2 separate regions of the Homo sapiens genome follow, and region 1 is linked to region 2. Evidence: fine-mapped QTL for protein levels in blood plasma. A gene starts in region 2. The other region holds a variant in brackets. All regions are shown on one strand. Distances are between the middles of the regions.

Region 1 (2,899 bases), 20 kb before region 2:
CACTTTTGTTTGGTCTGAAGCGCGGCCCAGGCTCGTTATAGCAGGCACTTCACCACCCCAAGCTTCACGAGAGGGGGCACAGTCGTGCAGCGGGAGGAGCGAGAGTCGGCCACTGTTTGGGTGCCATGGGTGTCCTGGGTAGAGTTGAGGGCCTCCCCCGGGAAGGATAATGCTGAGCCCCAATAGGAAACACTGCCCTGAGCTATCTGATGGCCAGCCCTCTGTCCATGGGGGAGCCATTTCTTTTCCTTATCTCTAAGCTAATACCCCTCTTTCCTGAGGTTCTCTCTTACTGCCTAAGCTGTTTGGCTCTGGGAGTTACTGGCTAGCTTGTCCCCGTCGGGATCTCATCCCCATCGGTATCTCTGGCAGGGCTTCTTGACCAGCTCCCCCCTGGACCTGCGGCTGGAGACGGAGTTGTGCCGCTCTCTCCGTCCTAGTTTGCCTTTTGAGGCTTACCCACTCCTCCACCTGGGCTGTTTTAAAATGATTAGAGCAGAACCTTTCAATCAATTCTATCAAATGCATCTGTAGAGCTAAGGGGGCGGTCCCTTATGTGAAACCTAATCTTTATAGCTAGGCCGATGGGTGTGCTCACCGCCGAGGCACGTCATTACGATGCTCTTTGGCTAGTCATTGTCATTAGAAATGTAAACACTGATTGGGGACCTTCCCGCAGGAGCTGTCTGGGCTGCCTGCTGTCTCCAAGCTATTCAACTTCCAGGTTTACCTTTGCAGCTTTGGGTGCCCCTTCAGGGCTTGAGCTTGGCAGGCTCCTGCGGTGGGGTTGTGGGGTGGACCCCTGAGACTGGAAGCACTCGCCCCCCAGCACCTACTCACCCCGGGCTCTTCATTCTCACTCTTCCCTGGTAAGTTCCGGACACCGCAGAGTCCGCACCCCTTTGGCGGCCCATCCAGTGGGCGCCTGCTTCCTGGGCCACCGCTTCATGCTCAGTTTTTTGGGCTGAGCCCTCTCATCTGCCAGTTTGAGGCACCCCAGGAGTCTCAAGATCTCTGCTGGGAGTGGGCCAGGCTACACAGTCTTCTTCAGAGGGATTTGTGACTCCCCTAGAAAGGTTAAGAAACCCTATTTTAGACCAGCCTTCTGGGTAAGGGACTAGTGGAGTTAGGGATTTTCATGTGCAGTTGAACGCACAGAAGGCGCAGTTGCTGGTGTTTGTATCTGCTCT[G/T]CGCTGAGACTGGCTCTTGCAGGTGTGAGTGAGGCCGCCTGGCCTTCTGCACAAGTCACAGAGAAGGTGACGGCCACTCAGGTCGTCCATTGGACTCCACTTTTTTTTTTTTTTGCAAAGTGTAAAGACATGGGGCGGGCACTCCAGGTCTGCTTTGGGCTTTTTCTGTTACGTTTTAAGGGAGGTGGGGAGAGCATGTGGCCCGTAGCTAAATGCTCCACAGGCACTCACAGAACAAGCCAGGAGAGAAGCTTTGCTGTGGAGGTGCTCCCAGAGCTGCCTCTGAGCAGGCTCAGCCCGGGGAGGCCCATAGGCTCCCATCTCCCTTTTCCCTTGTTGATGTAGATGCTTAGCTCTTTTGATTGAAGAAAGAACCTTCATGCGTTTTTATCCTTTTTCACCTTTGACCCCAAACTTGACAGCTGCTGGGGTTGGAGTTTCTGGACACGTGGCCTGTAGCAGCCTGGCATCTGTGGCGCCTCGTGTGGCTGCTGGCATCGGTGAGGCATGAGCTATGAGTGTGCCAGCCTCGGGCCCTTGGTTTTGTCTGCCTCTGGCATGTTTGCATTGGTGGTGGAGCTGACCTTTGCCCCTTAGAGAGTCTCCTGTGGCCTTCAACGGGGAATGGGGGCCAGATGATAGCGCGGGCCTTGTGCTGCGGGAAAGGCTACTTCCTCAGTCAGAGGTCATCTGGAGGGTTCTCCCCTGCGGTTGGAAGTGTTCATGCAAATTCCAGATCTGTCCTGGCCCAGCTTGGAGGTGGGCCTTCCTGACTGGGCCATCCCTTGCGAGCGTTCTCAGCCCACACTGGCTCCCTCTGCGCAGGCCCCTACTTGTGAAGGAGCTGAGCCGCACTCGGTGGGCTGTCCTGGGGCACCCATGTTGTGTGTTTTGGTTTTGTTTATTTTGTATCTGCCTGGTTTTTCCAAGTCTAATCAGGATGTCCCCTGGGGTGACATTCTTTGCTGAGAGAAGGGCACATGCCTCGGTTCCCTGGGCTGTAGAAAGCCAGTGCTCAGCCTTGCTTTCTGCCGCAGACTTGGTGCCCGGAGACTCGCTATCAAAGTGCAGTGGAGATAATGTCCAATGGGAGGCTGAGGCAGGAGAATGGCATGAGGCAGAGCTTGCAGTGAGCCAAGATCGCACCACCGTACTCCAGCCTGGGCAACAGAGCGAGGCTCTGTCTCAAAAAAAAGAAAAAAGGAAAAAAATGGTTATCTGCATCCTGGTTAAAATCAGTACCACCACGTCCCACACGTGGTAACATGGACTTGCTGGATAGGACCTCCTTGCTCCATGGGCCTGGAAGCAGCTGCTTCAGAAGGAAGGTGGTGCGGCCGGCGGCAGCGGAGGGCGCGCTGTGCAGTGACGAGATGGTGCAGGCCCGTCCACAGCCCTGGCCCAGAGAAGGAGAGACCTCACTGACCCCTGCTGGGCCTGCCTCTGGCCATCTTCATTTTGAAATTCGGTATCATTGTCTCCAGAGGGAATGAGCAGCTCTTTCTGGGGGGCAAGCACCAGCTGCCCTGAGATTGTGGAGGCCTGCACTGCCCGCCTCTCTGGACCTCAGCTGGTTTTATTTCCATGCCGTGGCAGGGGGCAAGCAGACGCTGTTTTTCCTTCCCCCTCACCGCAGCTAGGACTCCACATGCTGTTACAGCTTCACCCGAAGAAGAGGTGGTCCTGACCACGCCTTGACTTCTGCCCGT
Region 2 (2,887 bases):
TGGCTGCAGCTGTCCCTTTCCGGGGAAACAAAGGCACCTCCAGCGCCCCCACCCCCAGCCAGCCTCACCGATCAAGGAGGCCAAAGGCAGCTCCCGGCCCCGCTTACATAAAGCTTCCTGTGTGTGCTGGTCACACCTCACACCTCACGCCTCACGCCTCATGCCTCATTCACACCTCACACCTCACTCCTCACACCTCCAACTCAGACTTTTTAGCTTGAACTTTTTTCTCAATAAAACCACAGAAGCCCAGGCCGGGTGCAGTGACTCATGCCTGTGATCCCAGCACTTTGCGAGGCCGAGGTGGGCAGATCACGAGGTCAGGAGATCGAGACCATCCTGGCTAACATGGTGAAACCCCGTCTCTACTAAAAATACAAAAAAATTAGCCAGGTGTGGTGGCGGGCGCCTGTAGTCCCAGCTACCCGGCAGGCTGAGGCAGGAGAATGGCGTGAACCCAGGAAGCTGAGCTTGTAGTGAGCCGAGATCGCACCACTGTACTCCCCGCCTGGGCGACAGAGTCAGACTCCGCCTCAAAAAAACAACAAAAAAAAAAACAACACAGAAACCCAACAGAGACCTGAAGACGTGCCTGCCTCCCCCATCTCCGGGACCTCTCCCACCTGGGTGAAGGGGGCACGTGAGCCTCACCTGATCTTGACCATCTCAGCTAAAACACTGAACCACCCTTGGCACCCACCAGCAGCAGACGGAGAAGAACTGTATAGGGTGCAAAAGCGCCCCGCCACCATCAGGTCCAGATGAAAACCTACAAGTTGAATCAGCAAGGTGCTGACGGATACGCAAGCAGAAACCCTCTTATAGGAGGTTCAAGGCTGGGCGCAGTGGCTCACTCCTGTAATCCCAGCACTTTGGGAGGCCAAGGCGAGCAGATCACTTGAGGTCAGGAGCCTCAGACCAGCCTGGCCGATATGGCAAAACCCTGTCTGTACTAAAAATACAAAAATTAGCCAGGCATGGTGGGGGGTGCCTGTAATCCCAGCTACTCGGAAGCCTGAGGCAGGAGAATCGCTTGAACCTGGGATGTGGAGGTTGCAGTGAGCTGGGACAGCACCATTTCCCTCCAGCTCGGGTGACAGCAAGACCCTGTCTCAAAAAAAAAAAAAAAGTTTGAGAATGTCAGACAAGGCAGCACCCTGTGTAGGTGCTCAGGTTGGGCGGAGTCTCTCTCGGGGGAGGGGGGTAACAGGACAGCGCCTCCCGGGGCCTCCTTGCATGTCTGTGTCCTGATGCACAGCAGGCGGGGGCTGCGGGGACCAGAGAAGGAAGAAGCGCCCCAGCTGGGCACTTCCCGAGGAGGAAGTGGTGCCGGAATTTCCCCCAGGTGTGGCCTCAGGTATAAGAGCGGCTGCTGCCAGGTGCATGGCCAGGTGCACCTGTGGGATTGCCGCCAGGTGTGCAGGCCGCTCCAAGCCCAGCCTGCCCCGCTGCCGCCACCATGACGGTGAGCCTCTCCACATGCCGCTCGGATGGATGCTGCTTGGATGTGCAGCCTGGCATGGAAGGGCTGGGGTTCTCTGAGCCTGGGAGGAGGGTGTTGGGATGGGGTCTGGGAAACCCCTCAGTCTGGGGGTAGGGGAGGCAGCTGCAGATCCTCGGAGCGCTGGCATGCTGGGTGTCTTGGGCTGAAGGGCTAGCCTCTCTGGGCTTCAGTTTCCCCATCTATAGAGGGAGGGCTGTACTCCATCTTTCCGCTGGGAACAAGGAAAGCTGAGGTGGAAGTGAGGTGCCCCCTGCCCTGGGCACCTCCTAACCACCCACCTGCCTGTTTCACCAGCTCCTCCCCGGCCTCCTGTTTCTGACCTGGCTGCACACATGCCTGGCCCACCATGACCCCTCCCTCAGGGGGCACCCCCACAGTCACGGTACCCCACACTGCTACTCGGCTGAGGAACTGCCCCTCGGCCAGGCCCCCCCACACCTGCTGGCTCGAGGTGCCAAGTGGGGGCAGGCTTTGCCTGTAGCCCTGGTGTCCAGCCTGGAGGCAGCAAGCCACAGGGGGAGGCACGAGAGGCCCTCAGCTACGACCCAGTGCCCGGTGCTGCGGCCGGAGGAGGTGTTGGAGGCAGACACCCACCAGCGCTCCATCTCACCCTGGAGATACCGGTGAGGACCTGGGGATTCCGCTGTGGCGTGGGGCTGCCCCTCCCCTGGCGGGGCCCTGACTGCCCGGAGAGCTCTCTGGGCCTTGGTGGTTCTCACCTGTCAAGTGGGCGTGGCCACCTGAGCTCCCTCCCTCCGGCCCTCCTGACCTGGACGGCTGAGCTGCTGCTTGCGGCTGGCCGTGCCCTGCCTCCCACTGTCCTAGGTGGCCAGGGTCCCCTGGGGAAATTCTGGGCCCGTCACCTGAGCTCCTGCAGAAGTGGGGCTGGGTGATGAAGTGGAAGGGAGGCTCCTAGAGGCCTCCGGACCCTGCTCTGTGCTCTTGGAGGGCCCTGGGGAGACGTGGATTACCACCACATGTGAGCCCGACTGCACCCCAAGCCCGTGTGGCTCAGCCCTCGCTGCCTCAGGTCCTATCCTGAGTACACGGAGAGGGGCCCTGAGGGGAGAGGGGCCTCCAGGAGGACAGGGTAGGGCCAGAGACTCACTGTGCACCCCGTCCCGCAGTGTGGACACGGATGAGGACCGCTATCCACAGAAGCTGGCCTTCGCCGAGTGCCTGTGCAGAGGCTGTATCGATGCACGGACGGGCCGCGAGACAGCTGCGCTCAACTCCGTGCGGCTGCTCCAGAGCCTGCTGGTGCTGCGCCGCCGGCCCTGCTCCCGCGACGGCTCGGGGCTCCCCACACCTGGGGCCTTTGCCTTCCACACCGAGTTCATCCACGTCCCCGTCGGCTGCACCTGCGTGCTGCCCCGTTCAGTG

Alleles and levels. Alleles are on the strand shown, and positions count from the first base shown. The strength of an association depends on the size of the effect and on how common the allele is.
With allele T in place of G in region 1, the plasma level of the protein whose gene starts at base 1,390 in region 2 is lower (moderate association).

What was found. PIP is the chance, under the fine-mapping model, that this variant and not a neighbour inherited with it causes the effect. Protein levels are from antibody-based Olink assays in UK Biobank. Linkage for the fine-mapping came from a reference panel and not from the study's own genotypes, which makes the PIPs less certain.
Region 1: its variant is fine-mapped to the plasma level of the IL17C protein (UK Biobank, PIP above 0.99).

What each region holds. Positions count from the first base shown.
Region 1 is chr16:88,616,897-88,619,795 of GRCh38, forward strand. All of the region lies in intron 8 of ZC3H18 (zinc finger CCCH-type containing 18), which reads left to right. Among named protein-coding and RNA genes, the nearest start is that of IL17C, 20 kb to the right of the region's middle. The variant G/T (reference allele first, on the strand shown) is at 1,191.
Region 2 is chr16:88,637,183-88,640,069 of GRCh38, forward strand. It overlaps IL17C (interleukin 17C), which reads left to right and starts at 1,390. Exons shown (of 3, transcript NM_013278.4): 1 at 1,390-1,465; 2 at 1,799-2,127; 3 at 2,632-2,887. The coding sequence starts at 1,460. It overlaps LOC124903755 (a long non-coding RNA gene), which reads left to right. Exons shown (of 2, transcript XR_007065181.1): 2 at 1-252.